3 separate regions of the Homo sapiens genome follow, and all the other regions are reported to be linked to region 1. Evidence: microRNA targets listed by miRTarBase, many of them from high-throughput screens and not tested one by one. Region 1 holds a microRNA gene; each other region holds the end of a gene's coding sequence.

Region 1 (7,164 bases):
TCTACTAATATTTATGAGGAAATTCAGGCATGTGTGCAGTGGGTAAACATATATGTATCATACATTCCATGTTCACCTTGGGGTGGAGTTCTAGCATTAAAATGGGATGGAATTTGGCTCTTTATATCAACAGGTGAACTATAGGGCACAAAGACATTTTATGTGCAATTTCTATAAGCTGGCCAAAATTGGCTGGAGGTCTGCAGCTGTTTATCAATAAAGAATGTTTATAAGACCAGTCCTTTGTCCAACTGGAGTTGTAGTAGGTCTGCAAGGCGTTTGGGGGTGGGGGCGCATACTGAGGGAGGGAATGTTTCCATTGGCTGGCATCAGGCAGTCTATCGGGGTCAGTTGGAAATTTTCCAGCTGAAGTTGTGTTGGCTATGCTTTTTCGAAGCTGGTTTCTGCTTACTTAATAGCAGTTAATAATGCAAAAATACGTAACTAACCCCTCATCCTTCTGGCTGTGACATTCTGGAGGTTTTGTTTTGTTTTGTTGTTTGTTTTTTGTTTGTTTCTGTCACCAGGCTGGAGTGCAGTGGCTTGATCTCAGCTCATTGCAACCTCCACCTCCCACATTCATCTCCTGCCTCAGCCTCCCGAGTAGGACATTCTGTTTTTGGTGCATCTCATTTTAGGAAACAGGAGTTCATTTTGTCCGTCTGTTGGAGTATATTTTAACAAGTCAAATAACATCACTTTTTGATTTGATTAATTTTGATTTAAAGACATGAGGTACTGGGCTACAAACTTCATAGAGACCCCCAGATGATCTCATGATAAATGATACCAGATGATATGTTTTGATTTACATAACTTTACAGATAACTTAAAATGACAAATAAAGACACGTCTTTATTATGTAGAATGATGGAAATGATTACCATAATAACTGTAGTGGGTTGAATATTGTTCACCAAAATTCATGTTCAGCCAAACCTCAGCATGTAACCTTATTTGGAAATAGAGTCTTTACAGATGTAATCAGTTGAGGGGGTCTTGTGATTAAATCATCCTGGATTTAGGGTGGGCCCTAAGTCCAATGACTGGTTGTCCTTATAAGAAGACAAGACAGGGAGACACAGAGAAGAACACCCTGTGAAGATGGAAGCAGAAATTGGAGTGGTGCTGCCACAAGCCAAGGAATAGCAGGAGTCCCCATAAGCTGGAAGACTCAAAAAATTCTCCCTAAGAGCCTTCAGAGGAAACATGGACTTTCAGACAACTTGGTTTCATACTTCTGACCTCCAGAAATGTGAGAAGATAAAGTTCTATTGTTCTAAGCCCCTAAGTTCGTGGTAGTCTGTTATGACATCCCTAGGAACCTAGGAACCTAATATAGAGAAATAAAGGCTATGCTTTTTATGTGGCATGATGGAGATGGCCCCAGAATAGTGAAAGGCCATGGCTCTTCTCCTTCCATTGTGTACACAGAAAAGAACACCCCTTCGAAAGCAAAAGCAAAGGCCAGGCACGGTGGCTTATGCCTGAAATCCCAACATTTTGGGAGGCCGAGGCGGGCAGATCACTTGAGGTCAGGAGTTCAAGGCCAGCCTAGCCAACATCGCAAAACCCCATCTCTACTAAAAATACAAAAAGAATTAGCCGGGTGTTGTGACTCACACCTGTAATCCCAGCTACTCAGGAGGCTGATGCAGGAGAATCACCTGAACCCAGGAAGCGGAGGTTGTGGTGAGCTGGGATGGCGCCACTGCATTCCAGCCTGAGCGATAGAGTGATACGTCTCAAAAAAAAAAAAAAAAAAAAGCAAAAGCGAAAGCAAAGAAAGATTCAAGGGCAGATTTGCAGTGACTTATCATGTCTACAGACTGGGAAAAGCTGGTAGAAAAGAGGAGGAAACCATTCTCAGGAAACTCTACCTTTCAATTCCTCCAGTCATGAGCTCCAGGGTTGGATGCTCCCGCAATGGCAAAACTCCGCTCTCGTTACTGTCATGGGGCCACCACCACCCACCAAGCATCAGCCCATCTTTCCATAATGTCAAGTCTAGAGTGACATTTGTCTAATGTTTGCCTACCTGGAGATGTTGCCCCGCCCACCACCACCAGCAAAAACAACCGGCACCCATCTTATACGGATAATTCCCTACCTAAGGAGTTCTAGAAATGCATGGCCCACCAAAACTCAGGGTGGGTCATGCATTTCTAGAGGAAGAAATGGTGATATGGAGAGAAAGCTTGTCCTAACCCACTTCTACCAAAGTAGGATTAAAGTCAATTTGAAAAAAAACACCCGTTTCTCCTTTTATATAAAAACCAAATGCAGAAACTATAGAGAAATGTAATAAGCTTGACTCTACACAAATACCAAAATACACTGTAAACAAAATTAAAGGTAACTGACAAATTGAGGAAATATTTGCAACGTATATCACAAGCCAAGTTTTCAAGCATCAAAAGTCCTTACAAAACCCATTTTTACAAAGATGAATGTCAAGTTTTAAAATGGACAAAAGACAGGAAAATGCAAATCACACAATAAGGACAAATGGCACTCAAGATATGGGAAAAAGTCTATTCTTCCTACTAAAAAGGAAGTGAATACAATTAAAGATGCCAATTTTTGACAATAAAATGGGCAAAAAAATTTTAAGAAAAAAGAGAATTTCCAATGCGGGCCAAGTATCGGGACACTTACTGGAAGGCAGTTTCCCTCTACCTTTAGAAAGCCTCAAAGTGAGCATATGCTTTGGCCCTGCAACCTCGCTTGTAGGAATTTATCCTAAGGAAACAGTCAGGGGTGACCTCAAAGATTCATCTGCAAGGATATTCAACATGGCTTTGATGCAGGAAAAAAAGTAAATAAATAAAAGGAAACAATGTAAGTCTTCCTAAATTATGCCAAATTCCTATGCTGTCATTAAAAAACATCTATAACTCCATCATCTAGGTGATTTTGACTTTTGCTTTGGACTTGCCTGTACATTTCTAAATTCTCTATGCCAAACATGCATTGTTTTGTCATCAGATTTTGTTTTACAAAAAAAAAAAAAAAATCGTCTTTATGACAAGGGGTTAATAGGGGAACTGTGCTTCCCAGGAATTGACCAGGCGTCTACACCCACCTACTGACTCAAGTTACCTAAGACTGACAGAGCCTTAAGAGGTCAGGAGAGCGCCAGAGCGCGTGACAGGCTCCCTCGTCTCGGTGCGGCCACGCGGGAAGGCAGGGTCCCGGGCGCCGAACAGGGACGGCAGGAGGATCGTTTACAGACGTCTACACAAGAAACTCACTTCCCGTCACCGAAGACAAACGCGAGGCCACACTGACCTCCAGGCCCAAGACGCCCCTCCCCGCCGCGGCTCCTGCTGCCCGAGTGCGCATGCGCGCGCCCAGCCCCCGCAGGCCGGCGCTTCCCAGGAGGCCCCGCGCGCGGGTTTCCATGGGGACGCGCCGGCGCTGCGGCGTTGGCGCAGTCGTGGGAACAGCGCGGAGCAGGTAACGGCCCCGCTGCTGCCGTCGTCCCCCTCAGCCGGTTACCCTGTTACAGCCCCAGCTCTGGGCCCTTCCGGACCCTCCTGCTACGCTCTTTCTGGGCTTCCAGTATCGCCGGTCACTCAGTCCTCGCCCCTGCCTGCCTCGCTGGCGCCCCGCCGTTTCCTCCTCGCGGCACAGTTTGCCAAGGAACAGCTACCCCGGCTCGGCAGTGACCGGGCGCCCCGGCGACACACGTACTCTCAGGCCCGCTGGGCAGGGGGACGGCCTGGGCCGAGGTGACCTAGCGCTCCCGGGGCCGCGCCTGGGTCTGGCGAGGGGGCGGAGGCCGATCTCACCGCCGCCCCACCGAGGGAACTTTGGGGTTTTTCTATCTGAATCTTCTATCTGACCTCCGATTTTGCCTCTGCTTACTTGCTGTTTTGCTTTGGATTAGTTTTTCTTTCTAACCTTAGCGCTGGCATCTCCCTATCTCGTAGGAATCTAAATCTTTTGAAATGTCTTCTCTGTCTGTGTTTGTCCCCCACTCACCCAGCCTCGGGGCTCTTTATCCACACCCTCCCCTCAGCGTGTTAACGTTTCGTTGCCACACTTAAGCCAACGGTTAACTTTTTTCAGAGACCAGTTTTCACGGCTGAATGTGAGCTTGAGCCTTTTTTCTGTCTACACTCAATCCCTAGATGAACTCATCCAGTCGCCTGTACTCAGAGCCTATCTGAATTCCAGTGAGCCCCAAGTGTGCATTCCCAGCCCTCGCCCCTCCCCTGAACACCAGATCCCTGCATTTAGCTGCCTGCCACATCCCTACTTGGATGTCTACGGCATCTCAAACACAGCTCGTCCAAGATAGCGCTCAATAATTCCCCAAGCCAAGCCTGTCCTCCCACAATCTTAATCCATCATAGTTGCTGGAAATTCCATCCTCCAGTTGCCCGAGTCTTGCATCCTGTTTGAGTCCTGTTTTTCTCTTCCTCACCTTCAGTCTGTCAGCACTGCCTTCAAAATGCACCCAGAATAGATTCACAATTCTACCATTTCTCTCAACCGCCACTGTCACCACCTTGGTCCAGGCCCCCATCATCTGGTGCGTGGATTATTTTACTTGCTTCCTAATTGGTTTCCCTGAGTCTGCCCCTCCCCCACTTGAGCATGACAGTCTTAATGGTATTTCCCCGTTCTCTGTTATTTCGTATGAGTAAGTTTTTTAAAGGATTATATAAATTACAATTTCCTTATATAAATTACAACTTCCATAGGTAAAAGTGCAGTATTTTCAGTATGTATTTTGCAAATTGCAACTTTTAAACCGGGTCAGCAAGGCCATATAAGCATCCTGCTAACAAGCTAAAAATGTAAAGACACCCCTTAGCTTTGTTAGGTATAAATATGACAGTGCCCCTGGAACAGAACTATGGCAAGAGCTTTACAAGGGACTGTCCTGAAGAACAAAAGAACCCAGAGCCTTCTTCCCAGCGCAAAGACAGGAATCATGTAGGAGTTTAAGCTCTTCCTTTTTTATTTTTTAGAGAAGCACCAAAAGAGGCAAACTGAGATGCAGACAAATGATCATCCGTATGCTGATCATTTTGAATAGTAAGTACCTGGGTGCTGATACCGCGATCAATGTGACAGGTCCCTGCCCTCAAGGAGCTAAGGCCCCTAGCCAATCTCTCTTTTTTTGTTGTTTTTTTTTTTTTTAAGACAGAGCCTTACTCTGTCGGCCAGGCTGGAGTGCAGTGGCAAGATCTCGGCTCACTGCAACCTCCATCTCTGGGCTCAAGCAATTCTCCTGCCTCGGCCTGAGTAGCTGGGATTACAGGTGTACGCCACCATGCCCAGCTAATTTTTGTATTTTTAGTAGAGATGGGGTTTCACCATGTTGGCCAGGCTGGTCTCAAACTCCTGACCTCAGGTAATCTGCCTGCCTCGGCCTTCCAAAGTGCTGGGATTAAAGGCGTGAGCCACTGCGCCCGGCCCTACCCTTGCCACTCTCTTAAACTCCTAGCCCCATCTTTTCTCTTTTGCCATCAGGTAAAACCCCAATTAACCAAAGTAACAGAGTAGGATTGCCACGGTTAGCTGAGGGTCTGTAGGAGATTGCATTTCATAAATGACCATTTTCCTCAGATTTGATCTCCCACCACGCCCTTGTGCTGTCACTTCATAGAGAAGCTTGAAGCTGTCACATGGGAATCCCCTCATTCTTCAGCTCCCAAAACTGCAAGCCTTACTTATATCTGTTCCTACCTTCCTTCCTCCTCCTAACCAAGGCCACTCCCTCTCCGTGCTTTGGATCCCATCGCTTTCCACTCGCCAAAAACTCTACCCTGTCAGGTATACATTCCCTCTCCTGTATGATCACCTGTTCCATCTCAGCTGGCTCTTTGCCATGGTTTTGAAGCATGTTCAAGTCTCCCATCACAAAAGAGAAAAAAAGAATCTTCTTTGACCCCACGTTCCCCTTCAGTTTCCAGTTATTGTCCAATCCCTTATCCCTTTCGACAGGCAAACTTTAAAGAACTGCCATATTCAATGCCTCTATTATTTGTCTCTCACTCCTCAGCCAGTATGGCTTCCCTCTTCATCTCTGCTAAAACAAAAACCAGGAATGAGACTTTTTCAGGCTTTGTCTTGCTCAATCTCTCAGCGGCATCTGAAACTGCTGCCCCCATTTCACTCTACAAACACTGTCTTCCCTTGGCTTCTGTGACCATCCCTGACTCTTCTGCTTTTCCTGCTGCCATTCTGGCTCACCCTCCTCTCCCAGGCTCCTTAATATTGGAGATTCTCAAAGCTCGGCATCTGTTCCCATTTTATTCTCCATTGCGCCCCTTCATCTAGCACAAGGCACAGATTCACACGCACAGCTTTTAAGTTCCAGCCCTGTGCTCTTGACTCCTACCTTTCTCCAACTTGACCCTTTCTCAGCTAGACTCGTACGTTCAGCTAGCTGCGTGACAGTGTTTCTTAATACCACTCAGTCTCCTCCAATTCAACATGCACAAAACCAAACAACCCCACTTCCCAACCCCAGCTGGAACCTCTTCCGTTGTACCTAGGATTCCTCCTTGACCCTTATCACACCCCAACACCCAGTGAATCCTTAAGCCCAGGTGAGGTTGTCTCCTGGGCATCTTTCACATCTCTTCATTGTCGTGGACACCCAAGTGCAAACCACCACCTTCATTCAGCCTGCCGCAGTCCTGTACCAGCTTGTCTCCCCACATTCCCTCTGGCTTTTCTCGATTCTTCACCCTGCAGCCAGAGTAACCTTCAGAAGGCAGAGCTGATTATGCCACCCCTCCCGCCTCCCTCTTTTGCCTACAGTTAGCTTCCCATTGCCCTTGGATTAATGATCCACATCATAAACACGCCTTCCGAAGGCCCTGCAGCTGTTCACCCCCGCCTGCGTCTCAAGACTCATCTGAAACCGCTGGCCCTTCTCACTGGGCTTCAGCCACATGGGCCTCCTCCACCCACCAGGCCTTGGCATTCTTTCCTCTCTGTCTGCATTGTTTTTCCCTCCTCCCTCTCATCCTCTCTTGCCTAATTAGTTCCCACTGACCCTTCCTATCTCAACTCAGACAGTACTTCTACAGGGATAACTTCCCTGATCGCTGTCAGGATCAGGTTTCTTTATCTTCACAGAGTTGTATCTCCTTCCTTGAAGACACTCTGGACAGTCACTATTATGATTAGTTCATTACT
Region 2 (7,193 bases), not on the chromosome of region 1:
CAGAGTGTGGGCAGGGCCAGAGAGAATTAAAGAGAGATTGGAATGAGGACTGTCATGATTCAAATCACCAAGTAGAATGAAATCTTGCTTCTGTATTTGCCTCATGCCAAAATGCCCTGCATATCCTCAACAGAAAATCCCAACCCAGTGTGTTCATACATCACACTCTTTAGTTCTAACTGGTAAAGGAAGGGATAACCAAGTAGTATTTGGAGCAAGTTCCTGAAACAGTGTGGTTTAACCTTTCAAAAATGAACCCTATGTCTGGTTCAACATTCAAGTTATCATGAGTGCGGACACACACATACTATCCACACACTAACGGGCAAAGTGGGTTTTCTGTACTACAACAATATTCGTAGCAAAATATATGACTCTGTACTTCTGCTAGGTTAAAAAATGTCCGACCTCTTTTGATTCCCTGAAACTTTCTTGATTTAAAAAACAAAACCAAACCAAACCAAACCATGGGGGTGAATGGGACACGTCAAGATAAAAAGCTGGAATAAACCCAGAGACTTTCTGGAGTGGGAAACATGTAATGGGATGTTGGGAATGCAGGCCCTTGCAGCCCACCTAGGTGGGGAAAGCTTCTAGCAGTGGTTGATGCAAAAATCTATTCTAATTTTAAACAGTTGCAGGGAGGGGGTGTTTAACGGCTGTATAGCACCTTGTACCTTCTGGGCACTTACAGATATTAAATGATGGTGATGATGAATGGTACACAACTCTGTAGGAAGGTTTATAAAAACAATTACAATTTGTTAAGAAATTTCCCAAGAGTTCTTTAAACAAACCTATTTAAACTACCATATCTCTTTAAAAAAATCTTCCGCTCTCAGTATTATATGATGTTCTCAAGCTGAGGTTTGGGCAATAGCCACAGTCATGTCAAGGGGACATGGAAGAGATCCTTCTCCTTAAATACTGAGGAACTTTGTATCTGCCAGGGCTTTCTTCATCTTCATCATCATCATCATCTTCTAATATACAAAATGGACTTCTTTTTAAAAAGGTGCTTTTCTGAGGATGGATTTATCAGCTAAATGCCTTGACATGGAATGTATGTGAACTCCCCTCCCACAGCATCTGTCACAGCTCACCCTCATCATCTTAGAAGCATCAGGATAAAAAGGCTTGATTTCTTTGGTATAATCTCTCCCAGGATCTTGCACTGCAACTCTTCTGGCTTCCCTTATGGCACCGTTTTTGGTCCATGGAATCCCCACTTTTGGCACTGCTGTAAGCACGGACAGCTGGACTTCAGTGCGCACTTCAGCAAGAGCAGCACTTGGATTTGTCTCGGCACAGCACTTTGGGCCTTTGAGAATATGAGCTTCGATGACATAAAGCTAATAACTTGGTTTTGTGGGCAGCCATCCTGTTCACTCATTAGGCTGGAGCGGAATTTTCAATCCTTGTCAACTAGTGAGGAGAATGAAAAACATGCCAGGGTTGGCCCAGCAAGTCCAGTTTGTCTCACCCCTCTCCAAGAATGTTCATACTATATTTACACATCTAGAATCATTTGAAATATAGTGTAGTATCCTAAATCCATCTCTATTTCTGTGACTAGCCTGTACTTTTTCAGATCACTGCTGGTAAAATCTAGAAGAAATCCTAATTGCAGTCAAATCTAGCGAAAACCCTAATTCCAGCAAAACCAAATGTCAGGTTACTTCCCTGAACCAAAGTATTCATAACTCAAAATTGAGACGCTTAGTAGGACCCAAAGATCTTTCCTGGAAACTTTTTTTTGAGACGAAGTTGCTCAATCTCCCAGGCTGGAGTGCGATGGCGTGATCTTGGCTCACTGCAACCTTTGCCTCCTGGGTTCAAGAGATTCTCTTGCCTCAGCCTCCCGAGTAGCTTAGATTACAGGTGCCTGCCATCATGCCCGGCTAATTTTTGTATTTTTAGTAGAGATGGAGTTTCACCATGTTGGCCAGGCTGGTCTCAAACTCCTGACCTCAGGTGATCTGCCCACCTCGCCCTCCTAAAGTGTTGGGATTACAGGCGTGAGCCACTGCGCCTGGCCTGGGAACTTCATACTACTAGAAACTTTTAAGATATAATTTTTAGTAGTTTTACTCCCAGAAATGTCATTAATATTTCTAGAGCTTTAGATCTCTTGGCTTAGACTTTCCCATGTTTACAAACTTATTCTGAGTTTGGAAGCAAAAGTGACCCCCACTTAATCTGATAATGGGAGGCTACTCCAACTGTTAAAATCCTAACCAATATGTTTTACTTCTAGCTCCTCAACAGCAGCAGGGTAGGTAGGATGAGTGCTTGTGCCCTCACCTCAACCCATACCTCACCCAGTTCATCTTCTGAGGGCAAATCTTGAAACTCATTGCCATATTCCTGGCTTCCAGTTCTAGCTCAGCCTAGGGGTTGGTGATTCTTACGTTGTTGTTCCACAGGTTACAGTGACTCTTTTTCTCATCCTGCTGTTATTCTTCATGAATTGGCTTCTAGGCAACCCAGTAGTGTACATATACCAAAAGGGCTCACCTCAGCCAGCACAGGAGGCTTCTTGAAGTTCTAGTCCTCTTTATGAAACATCCACTGAATTGCTTCCAAGACTAGGTTACCACTCTAACAAGGCACTCTGCTATACATTCAGTCTTGCTCTTGGCTACTTTAGCCACTGTTGTGTTTCTCTAGCACCCAAGTGTCACAGAGATTGTTCATGCTCATGTGGCTTAAGGAAAAGTTCCAATAGGAGCTTAATTGTTCAAACTCTCAATATAAATGGAAAACTCTACAGTATAGACTTCAATAGAAAACAATTTCCAATCAATATTGAAGGCAATAACTTCCTGTTACTTGAGAAAATGTAAAGTGCTATACTAGTCACAATTCAAACACATAGATATATAAATGTGTGTGTATGTGTCTACAGAGGGTAGGATTTCTTTCCAGTTGATGAACAAATTCAAAGGTCCTACCACAATTAAAATGAAAAATATTTGTGATAATGTTAAACTGACTGAATTTCATTTTTTTGGAAAAATATTCTGAAGACCAACTCATGTAGTACTTTTTGCCTAGAAATATAGTTTCTTTCTCTATTCTGCTCTAACCTGTAACACCCCCTTCCCTCTCTATCTCACATTCTTTGGCCATCACCCAGAGAAAAATTAATCTAGCCACCTGTCTCTGGGAAGCCTGAGGCTTTTCTCTGGCTAGTTTGCATTCATCTTTTGCCCTTAACAAATCTGAATATAAAAACAGTACTAAAAACATCTGATATGAAGAGGTGCTTGGTTTACCAGTGCTGTAAGATAATGGTAGTGGAGGTGTCCATGCTTATTATACCATAGAGTTAAAGTGAAGACTGGATCCAAATCATAACAGAAAAAGAGAAAGAAAAAAAAAGATAAGTAGAGACATAACAAATAGAGGGACCAGGAAACATTCAGCATTAAATATGTAACCTCATTAAATAGTCAACATTGAAATTTACATGGGCAAGGCACCACGAACATGACATTGAGAAGGTATATCTCAATATGCAAGACATTGCAAGATGGGAGGTGGGGGAGGTTAAGGGAATGTGCTGGCTGACATGGTCAGTGGTCTGTGTGCTGCCCTTCAGTGCATAATCAGGCAAGGAGTTATGTGCACATGTTCTATGCTAAGATGAACCAAACACCAACCTTCAAGGCAAGGCGCGGCCATGCCACAGGACACCAAGAGCAGACTGCTGGCCTGCAGCAGCATGCCCACTCCATGGCCATTCCTAGGAGCAGAGCCCTGCACTCTGGCTAGAGGAGGCAAGACTCTTTGTGGGCTAACCAGCCTTCTTTCCTGTGAGTCCTATATTGCTGGCCAGGGGATAAGGGACATTCTCCAAATAGAGCCTCACATATTACAATCACTTAAAAAAGTAATAAGAGCACAATAAAATACATTATTTTCCTTTCCTGATCCTCTTTGTTATACATGAATCACATGAAAAGCTGTTAAAAATGTTAAAAGTTTAGAAATTTCCAAGGCCACTAATGTGCTATGTAAGTAATACTGCACAGTCAGTCTTGGCTTTAAGGAAACTCTGCACTGGTAGATGAGGGGCCTCAGGGCTCACTCACTCACTAGGCACAGAGAACATGTCTGTCAACCCTGCCACAGGTTGCTTTTCTAGAGGCCTGGCCTCTACTTCCAGCATGCGTGTGCACGCACACATGGGCACACAAGTGTACACACACATTGTTCGAGTGACTCTTGGGATTTCAAGGTCAAAGTAAACACATACTCACAGTTTTGAATAAAACAAGCACAGGTGAACATGTGTATACATACACACACACACACACACACACACACACACACACACACACACACAACCCCAGTGGAAGGAACGCTCATCTCTTAGCGCAAATATGTGCCAAGGGAAGAAGGGGGAGGGTTTCTGTAGACTCGCTTCAGGTGAAGTTGCAACATAAACACTGTAATATACAGCTAAAAAAATACATACAAAAATTGCACACATATCCATAGAAGGGGAGCACAGGCTGCACACATGGTGAACAGCTCTCAATCACCCACCTCAGCAATCAGAATTCCTGTGAGCTGTCCTCCAGAGCCATTTTACAGAGTCAGAAGGAGCAATGAGCCACTTAAACACTGGGAGGCAGTCTCTCTAGAAGAGGTCAACCTTCTGAGGAGGTCAGCAGTCTCATCAGTGGCCTTCTTCCTCTCCCCTGCCTACGGCCATCCCAACAGCCCACCTCACTGTGCCCTCTAAAGGAGATCTTAGAGCTCCACTGACAGCTATTTCATTCAGGGCAATTGTTTACAGCATTTGGTAAACTAGTTAACACTGGCTACTGATAGAAGGGAGCTGGCCAATTACTGCTCGGGGAAAACTGCAAATGCTGACAGTTCTGACAGTAATCAAAGGGTACTTTAAACTCTGTTTCCTGATGGCCCCTAGAGAATTGCACATGCAAGAAAATCATCTCCTCATGCCCTGCCAGCTATTTATAAGCTCTGAACTGCACTCCACCCTGCTGAGGCATTGGTGACACCACCTTGGGTCAGCTCTGTAATGGGCCACAAGTGGCTGATAAATCCAAACTTCACTGGCAAGTGGGGACAGAGTGGAGAATCAGGCAGTGGCAGCAGAGGGGAGACTATTAGGGCTGTCCTCCATGCAGTGCACATACTTACAGATAATGGCAATGAAAATGGGTCTATGACCCAAGGATGGGATCTCTCCTTTTCTTTCTACTCTCTCCTGGAACAAAAGATATAGTCCCTGGTAACCAAAACTGGGCTGATGCTAAGGATGGCAGTCCTGCCTAGTAAGTCAGTTGTTGACACCTTAAAGGAAGAGTCTGTTGTCAGAGTCTACTGGGTCGTGGTAGAGACTGGTTAAGTCTGTCTACTGCTAGTGAGAATAAATACTTGGTGCTAAAAAGATAGGTGATATCCAGAATTATGGAGGAAATGGACACAGCTCACTGGCTGAGTTCATACCAAAGAAGCTGTCCCTTCAAGAATATGGATTTTCATTTTTACCTGCATTTATGGGACTATTAGGATAGAAGGTGTTTCAAGGGAAGGCAACTGCAAGTTTGTGCAGCTGAATTTCTGTAAAGTTAAGACAGACTCAGCTTCTCATTCAATCTGGGGCAGTGGATAACCTTTCTGAATAGACCCACTTGTTCACGGACAGGGATAGAGGTTTGCCTTTCTTCTTTCCTTGAATTTGGAGTGAGCACTAGGGAGGGGAAGTGCATGGGTGACATGAAGAAGGTGAAGATGTAGTAAAAGCATCATCCAGGTACACATTAACGGTGCTGCAGAATTTTCACAATACAACTGAGGGAGTCTGTAGTGGCAAAAGCCAAATACTGAGCACAAAGCCAGTCCTCAAGGCTGATTCCACCTTCCCTGTCCAGGGACTTCTCAGCAAACTTGATCATGAGCAGTGTTCGCTTGATGTCTAGCCAGTTTTGGAGCAGGGTGTTCCTCTGTACTAGGCTAGGGCAGGCGGTGAAAGTCTGGAAGAGATCTTCGCGGGGGCCCCAGAGCAGACACTGGAGGATGCCTTTGGCGTCTGAAATGAGGATCCGCTCAGAAGGGTTGGGATTCAGGAGGCAGCTGGCCAGCTGCTGCAGACCCCGGGAGTAGGGGGAGCGGAATGGGATGCGAGGCAGGTCTGCTCGTGTGTATTCCCTCTCCTTCAGCTCTGGGTTCTCATCAAAGGGGTTGGGTAGGTGCAGCATCTCATAGATGAGGATGCCTGTCTGGAACTCATCACACTTTTTATACTGGGTAGCTGTTATGATCTCTGGGGCAAGGCGAGACTGGTCCCGGAGGATCTCGGGGTCCACCAGATGGCTCTTCTGCTTGGCCTGAGAGAAGTTGCTCACTATAAGCCTAGTGGGATAAGATGAGGTGGGGCTGGGCTCTGCAGGCCCAAAGCCTTGGGCAGTCCCCCCAGGCTGGTAGTGGACAAGTAGCAGGTTCTCTAGGCGTAGATCGCAGTGAGTGACATGGTAGGGTTTGAGGTGCTCAAGACCAGAGCATAGCTGTAAGAGCAGCAGACACACCTGCCTCTCATACAAATCAGGGCTTTTCCCATGCTGGGCCAGAGAGTCTCGCACAAAATCAGCCACAGTAAGACATGGAACCTCCCTGGTGATGACCACAACGTGGCTCCTCTGCTTCTTGCTCATGACTCCCTGATTCTCTTTCTGGGATGATGCTGCTTCAGAACAGGGCTTTGGGTTTTTCCCATCCGTTTCTCCTTTGGCGTCTTCTTCAGTCTCTTCCATGTCATCCTCATCCTTTTCAGGGTCATCTGGATCCTCCCAGGGAAGCAGACGGTTAGGGACTTCAGCAAGGAAATGACCACAGTCCTGCTGAATGTTAAAATGGACAGCCAGACTCTGCCGGACAGCCAAGCTGTGATAATACTGCTGAGATTCTTTAGCTTTGCTCTTACAGATCTGAAAGATAATAAAACAATTCAAAACTCACACTCTCATAACCAGGTTTATGATGTATCAGGGAAGATTAACTGGAAGGTGACTGGTTAGGGACAAACGATCATATAGTAAAGTTGTTCGCAAGGCTTGCCCCATGTTAAGTGGCAATAATAATGGTGGTAACCATTTCTCATGGTTGTCTACATGCCAGGCTGTGGTGAGCACTTTAAGTGTACCATTTTTAGTCCT
Region 3 (7,193 bases), not on the chromosome of region 1:
TTTATTGCCCTAGAGCTTTTCCGAGTTATGTTCTGACCCCCATTCTTGGTTCTTTGGCGAGCTGTCGGTGAGCTGTCACGTAAGTCTGCATGTTGGGCAGTGTGGCACATCCAGGTTTCCAGTTCCGAGTTTCCACTTGGAGAAGGGAGTAGAAGAAAGCAGGCAGGCAGAGACAGTGGGAAGGTCATGGACACCTTTGAGTCATGAACAGACCTAACCATTTTTCTTTTCCCCTGACTACCTCAGGAAGCTGCAAGTGGATTCGAACTCCTGCAATCATCTACTCTGTTCACACCATGACAACCTTAATTCCGATACTCTCCACATTTCTGTTTGAGGATTTCTCCAAAGCCAGTGGTTTCAAGGGACAAAGACCTGAGACTTTGCATGAACGGTTAACCCTTGTGTCTGTCTATGCCCCCTACTTACTCATCCCATTCATACTTTTAATTTTCATGTTGCGGAGCCCCTACTACAAGTATGAAGAGAAAAGAAAAAAAAAATGAAGGAAACAACCACTGGCCCAGGGTAGAGATGCCTACAGGGTGGTTGCTTGTTGGATACAATACAAGGAACACTGCTCAGAACCCACGTCTTCAGCAGCATTTGAAACACTGGCAGCAATGCACAAGAGCAAGATGGTGTCAGGAACCATGTCAAACCCTCACCTTCTTCCATTTTTTTTTTTTTTTTAAGACAGTCTCACTCTGTTGCCCAGGCTGGAGTAAAGGGCAGTGGCATGATCTCGGCTCACTGCAACCTCCGCCTCCTGGGCTCAAGCCATCTTCCTTAGCCTCCCAAGTAGCTAGAACTACAGGTGTGTACCAACACGTATGGCTAATTTGTTTTGTTTTTTTTGTGTGTGTGGAGACAGGGTTTTGCCATGTTGCCCAGGTTGGTCTCGAACGCCTAGGCTCAAGTGATCTGCCCACCTCAGTCTCCCTAAGTGCTGGGATTACAGACGTGAACCACTGGGCCCAGCCCAAACCTTCACCTTCTAAGGGCACTGGGATGAACAGACCGATCGGCTTGAGGGTGGGCAAAGGGGTGTGGGCTAGGTTATAAGGAAGTGGTACCAAATAACTGTGTGCCTGAGTTCCACCGCAAGATTACTAAAAGCAGGACCAGACCAGAAACTGCTAAAGAACATGGCCTGTTTGACATGTTCATGAGTCACCTGACCCACAGCATATATGCTTATGACTAAACCCTCCACTCCTGATTCTCAAGAGTGTATCACCTGTCAGCAAAATGAATAGTGGGATATTTTGGGCCATTTTAAATGTGAAATTTTGCCTCTTTAATGTTAATTCAAAACTATATCAATGTTTTCTTGTTCCCACCTCTAACCCAAGGAAAAAAGAGAAAACATACTATGCAAAGGAAGTTTAAACTTAAGTTTTCCTTAAGGGTCAGCCCAACAATGACTTTCAGTCAAATGGATTAAACTGGAAAATGTTTTTGTTTCTGTTGTAAACAGATCATCCTAGGCGAAAGTTTTTTTTGTTTGTTTGCTTTTAAATTAGTTTATTTCTAAATCTTAGTCTTCCACATTTCTAGAGGCCACCTGACACAAGTCCCTGTATCTGAAGTCTAGCATCTCAAGGCTGATCTGGAAGTGTGCTAGTATGCTCCCTAGTGGATAACTTAATCTTTTAATACAGTTCCGTCATTCCCATCTTGTTTTCAGAAGAGAAGGTGGCTACAGCCAGGCATAACATATCCACTGTGTGCATAGAGGGTCTCTTCACGTTGATGCTTGGCATTCCATCAGCTTTCTCTAAGTCTTTGCTCAAGTTCAACCTTAAAATGATGTTAGACAACAGGTCCCAGTCAGTTCCCTCTATTTTCACCCATTTTGCTCACAAGCCATATTGGCCCGATTAGTGGTACTGTCTGACTCACGTGTGTGATCCAAATAAAGGTAGCTGCTGACCACTGCCTGGTTTGTTTTGTGGACTAGGGGATAGAGAATCCAGGGTTCTCTCATGAGGAGTTAAACATATTTCAAGAGCAACAGGAAAAAAGGTACATCAAGCCATTTGAAAACAAAAATTTATTGCTTCTCCTTCCAAAGCTTTGTGAATTTACAAAAAAAAGGATGAAAGTTTACAAACTGCTTAGTTCCAACTAAGCATAAGAGGTGAGAACGTACACTGCAGGGCCACCAGCAGCAGCTGTGCACTGATGTTAAAACTGGCTCCCCCAGACTTGTAGTGCTGTCTTCAGGGGGCTGCATTCCTTACACGCCACCTCTTGTGACATAGGTCATTGGTCAAGCCGCTGGAATGCTACAGAGGTTTTTTTGGTTTTGAGAGGCTTTTTTTTGTTTTGCCTTCCTACTATAAAAGCGAAATTTTCAGTTCATTTCTGAAAAATAAATTGGTCAATAAATTCATTTTGTTCTGCTTCTACTTTACACAAAGCTTCATATTCAACCCGATACCTGAAAAACAAAATTGTTAGAGGCCCTGAAAAAAAGATGAAGTAAACCACAGACCTAATTCTTCTAGAGAAGGATATAGAGGTTTAAATGATTTCAAGAAATGGTGTGAGTTCAGAATGAAGAAAGAAAGAGGCAAAGCCCTACCCAGAGCCACCCATGAGAAATCTCCAGCCCTAGGAAAGTCTTCTTTCAGAGAGCCAGCCAACTTCGTGGACCCTTTCATGCTCAAACTACTAGAGGTGGTTTGATATTAACAAGTTTTCTATTTCCTTCCCATCAAATGTAATTTTATTTTTTAAAATCTTCAAATCAGGATGACAAGTGAGATGCTATTCCTGGGAAAACAATGATGAAGAATAAGGACAAGAAGTGATCATTCCAGAAGGAAGAGTGGAAATTCAGCTGTGTAAAGAACTTGCTTTACATCATGACTTCTTACCTTTCTAGCTGCATTTTCTTTTCTGCTATTAGGGCTTGAAGTTGCTGCTGTTGAGCTTCTCTCTGCTTTGCTATAGATTTGAGCAAGTTCCGAGCACCGATGGCCTACAGTATTGCCAGAGAAGGCCATGGCTTCATTAAAACCATCTACAGCATCAAGTCCTCAAAGTGGGGAGGGGTTATCTGGGAGCTGTGTCAGTCTTCAGAGAGGAAAAGAAAGTGGAGCCCCAAAGCTTTTGGGTTAAGTCAGAAGGATTAACCTACTGATCACAAAGTGCCTCAAGAACTAGACGGCAGCTTTGAGGCAGGTCTAGGAGTATTCCTAGAGCCAGGGACACAGGCACAATAGCACATTTGGTGGTGCCATTCAGCCTTGTGCCTTTCACCAATCATACTATGTAAGCCTTCATTTCTTCATTTATAAAATGAGGATAAGACCATCTACATCAGTGCTGATATGAAGATGAAACGAGGCCAGGTGTGGTGGCTCACACCTGCAATCCCAGCACTTTGGGAGGCCAAGGTAGGCAGTTCACTTGAGGCCAGGAGTTTGCAACCAGCCTGGCCAACATGGTGAAACCCCATCTTTACTAAAAATACAAAAAAATGGCCGGGCGCAGTCACTCACGCCTTAATCCCAGCACTTTGGGAGGCTGAGGCGGGCGGATCACCTAAGGTTGGGAGTTTGAGACCAGCCTGACCAACATGGAGAAACCCTGTCTCTACTAAAAATACAAAATTAGCCAGGCATGGTGGCACATGCCTGTAATCCCAGCTACTCGGGAGGCTGAGGCAGGAGAATCGCTTGAACCCAGGAGGCGGAGGTTGCAGTGAGCCAAGATCGCACCATTGCACTCCAGCCTGGGCAACGAGAGAAAACTCCGTCTCAAAAAAAAAAAAAAAAATACAAAAACCTCAGCTGGGTGTGGTGGCACACACCTGTAGTCCCACCTACTCGGGAGGGTGAGGTGGGAGAATCGCTTGAATCTGAGAGGCAGAGCTTGCAGTGAGCCGAGATTGCACCAGTGCACTCCAGCCTGGGTGACACAGCAAGACTCTGTCTCAAAAAAAAAAAAAAAATAAAGATTAAAGGAAATAAAGATTGGCAAAAGTTCAGTAGGTTAAGTGGACCAGAAGTTATTAAAATCTTAAATAAAAATTCACCCACCCAGCCCTCTACCCCTCTAAATAAATCAAGAGGGAAGAGGGATGAGAGGGTAGTGAACTAGGGTCCCAGGCCAAGATGTAGGCGGAAGACATGCTGATCTTACCTTCATCTTTTCATTTTCTGCTTCTTTTGCAAGTTGATCAACAAGCTCAATTAAACCACCAACTATTTTCTGAAACTGGCCAATTTCTTTTAGGAAAAGAACAAAAAATAAAATATTTCCTTAGTATCATCACTCCCCTTCGGTAGAGTGCTAAGGCAGTGAGAGGGCAGAGCGGACTGCCCCTTCTAATTTGTGTTAAAATAGTTCGGTGTGGGCCAGGCGTGGTGGAGAGCAACTGTAGTCCCAGCTACTCAGGGGGCTGAGGTGGGAGGATCACTTGAACCCAGGAGTTAGAGGATGTGTGATCATGCCTGTGAACTGCCACTGCATTCCAGCCTGGGGAACATAGCAAGACCCTGTCGCTTAAACACTTTGGTGCCTGTTGGCCTGTCTCCTACCCTTGGTCTGAACCTAGAGAAGGGTGGCCAGCTGGACCAGGGCATACTCGGACCTTGCATCCCCACTGAGCCAGCCAGCCGCTATGACCTCCGGCTATGAAAGCACTAGGCCCTTGCTGGGCTCATTCTCCAGACAGACCCCAACCCTGCTTCCCCAGGAGTGACAGGAAGCACTGTTGTTCACAAAAGGGCAGCCTCAGGACACAAGCGCTGCCTCTGGACTAGCTACAGGTATGACACCAGATTTCAATTAACAGTGGGGATGGGGGCTTCCCACTTGTAACCACAAAAAAGCAAGCTCACAGCATTAAGTGCCTAATCTCCCACTCACTTTCTCCAATGTCCTGGATGTGACAATTTACTGAGGGGAAACTAAGGCCCAGAGAGGTGTGTGCATGGCACAGCAATCACAGGTTAGTGACAGAACCCAAGCTACCTTTCACTAACCAAGCTCTCTCCACAACCTAGGAAACCCCCCAGAAAGCTCAGAAGTCCCTTGTTCTAGCTAGATCTGGCTCTGTACGGGCATTGGGCTTGCTTGGCTGCTGGGACAGGAGGCTTCCTGAAGATTTCCAGCCAAAAGATGACTTCAGTAAGTCTGTTGAGCTGCTTCTAGAAACTTCACCTATCACTTCTAACTCCAAATAACAGAGAACCTGCCCCTGAGAAGACTTTCTCTGAAGAAATCAAATCATGAGTACATAATTCTATTTCCCACACCCAAGCCATGGTTGTGTTCCCAGAAAGTTTAAGGTTTCTAAGAGCAAGAAATGAAAGATGGCATATCTAAAGACACCCTCCCCTCCCCATCCCGGTGTTTGGTTTGACTGGTGCCCTGTTGGGGACACATGAGAGCACAAGAGGGCAGACAGAAAAGGGTGGCACGTGGGAACTCACAGACGCCAGATTCAACCTCCAGGGAGCCAGCAGCTCCACTGTGGCAGGGCCAAGATGAGCCTGGGGTACAGTTGAAATGGCAGCTCAAAGCTGAGTGGCACTGTATCTCCCCAATACTCACTGTCCACAAAGTCTTTGCACTCTTCCTTCAGCTCTATGGTCTGCTGGGTAACCTCTGGGTCCAACACCCTCAGCTTGTTCAGTTCATCAAAGTGTAGCCCTGCTTCACCCAGGATGTCCTTGGCCATGGCTGTAAAGAAACAGGCCCAATTCCTCATCACTTCCCAGCCACCCAAGGAAATGCCTGCTGCCAAGCCAGCCCCACTCCTGCCCTTGGACACCAATGCCAAAAACCCAGGTGTTCCAAAGGATCCCCGTTCCCTCTGCCACCACCTCTCTGAGCCTCACCTGTTTCCCATCCAGGTTCCCTAGAGGAGTTCTGCTCTGAAGGAGTGACAGTGGCAGTCAGGAGGAGGTGTGTCATAGGAGCAAGGGTCAGGAAAGAATAAAGTCCGCTTGCTTGTCACAGGCATCGTTCATTCAACACACATTTCTTGAGTGCCTACTACATGCCAACACTGCTAGATGCTGGGGGTACAAAGATGAATGCAACACGGTGCCCGCCCTGAAGAGCACATAGTTCAGCTGGAAGAAGACAGACACGGAAACTGAAAAACCACACTGCGTTAAATGCTTGTTTAGAAACATCAGTAAAGAGCCAGAGGAGGACAGAGCCATTAATGAAGGAGTGACATGTGAACTAAGTTGTAAGCCATCAGTGTATTTACTTTATATATCACCAGTTATGTACTGAAAAGCACATGAAAAGGCTTCTCAAATACATATACTGGAACAACACAAAAACCAAATAAAGGAAATCCGAGTAAATTAAAAATTATGGTTAAAAAATAAAAAGTCAGGAGTAAGAATATTACTCAAAACGTATGCTTGCCTGAATTGGGAATCAAAGTTGGGTCATTCTCTTCCTAGCAGAAAACACAAAAAGGAATGAAGTATCAGCAAGAACATATCAAGGCAGGAGAACAGGGATAGGTATTCCAAGCAGAGAAAACAGCATGGACAAAGGCCTGAAGTCACTGAAAGGACCTATCTCACCTAAGGACGAGAGGAAAAAGAATGGAGCTGGAAAGGTGAGCTGGAGCCAGACCAGGAAGACCCTGCATGCCAAGCTAAGGAGTTTGGATTTTTTCTGTAGGCAACAGAGAACTAACAGAGATATCTTCTCCCTTACCAAGCCACCTTGCATTCCTGTTCCAAAGGATGCCTCAATTCTAGGAAGGAAATACTGAAAACTCACTCTTGTTCTGGCTCAAAACACACACACACACACACACACACACACACACACAATTAAACATAGACATCTTTATGACCTGTTTAAAAAGGGAGGCAATGCTACTTACATCTAGCAATTGGCTGCTATGCCAATTCTAAAACCCAGGTGCTCCAAAGTCTACCATCACCTGGACTTGCACCAGCCCCTTCCCTCTGCCCCCACTGCCCCCAGCCTCAGCTGTTTCCCTTCTGGCTTCCTTAGAGAAGTCCTGTTCTGAATGGGGTGATTCTGGGGTTGGCTGTCCAGGGCAGGTGTGCCAAGGAGGAGCAATGGCTGGAAAATAATCAAGTCTCACTGTTTCCAGAACTTCTGGTTTTTAAGATGACCAGAAATCCAGTACCTCAATGTTGGTATGTAATCCAAAAATTTTAAGTAAGGGGGAAAAC

The links. The annotated mature microRNA hsa-miR-6508-5p reads UCUAGAAAUGCAUGACCCACC and lies in region 1 at 2,150-2,170, opposite strand. An mRNA with a match to its seed (bases 2 to 7 or 8) in the 3' UTR can be bound and repressed. Matches are read on the target gene's strand: a 7mer-m8 pairs with bases 2 to 8, a 7mer-A1 pairs with bases 2 to 7 and ends in A, and an 8mer does both.
Region 2: the mRNA of PEAK1 is a reported target of hsa-miR-6508-5p. Seed matches in the 3' UTR shown: 7mer-A1 at 4,648-4,654, 7mer-m8 at 3,054-3,060, 7mer-m8 at 2,055-2,061, 7mer-A1 at 1,608-1,614 and 7mer-A1 at 1,518-1,524.
Region 3: the mRNA of TMEM97 is a reported target of hsa-miR-6508-5p. Seed matches in the 3' UTR shown: 8mer at 1,554-1,561.

Annotation. Positions count from the first base shown.
Region 1 is chr21:39,442,020-39,449,183 of GRCh38, reverse strand. MIR6508 (microRNA 6508) reads right to left here and starts at 2,174; the gene lies at 2,115-2,174. The region is part of intron 8 of GET1-SH3BGR (GET1-SH3BGR readthrough); the gene reads right to left. It overlaps LCA5L (lebercilin LCA5 like), which reads left to right and starts at 3,406. Exons shown (of 11, transcript NM_152505.4): 1 at 3,406-3,459; 2 at 4,983-5,049. It also overlaps a transcript of SH3BGR not described here. RefSeq lists a silencer at 3,236-3,495.
Region 2 is chr15:77,108,355-77,115,547 of GRCh38, forward strand. PEAK1 (pseudopodium enriched atypical kinase 1) reads right to left here. Exons shown (of 10, transcript NM_001385026.1): 10 at 1-6,965. The coding sequence ends at 5,802. Among named protein-coding and RNA genes, the nearest start is that of TSPAN3, 41 kb to the left of the region's middle. RefSeq lists a silencer at 5,895-6,083.
Region 3 is chr17:28,326,288-28,333,480 of GRCh38, forward strand. It overlaps TMEM97 (transmembrane protein 97), which reads left to right. Exons shown (of 3, transcript NM_014573.3): 3 at 247-2,398. The coding sequence ends at 506. IFT20 (intraflagellar transport 20) reads right to left here. Exons shown (of 5, transcript NM_001267776.2): 2 at 5,572-5,700; 3 at 4,156-4,241; 4 at 2,886-2,989; 5 at 2,039-2,446. The coding sequence starts at 5,698. The coding sequence ends at 2,365. Among named protein-coding and RNA genes, the nearest start is that of IFT20, 5.6 kb to the right of the region's middle. RefSeq lists an enhancer at 882-931.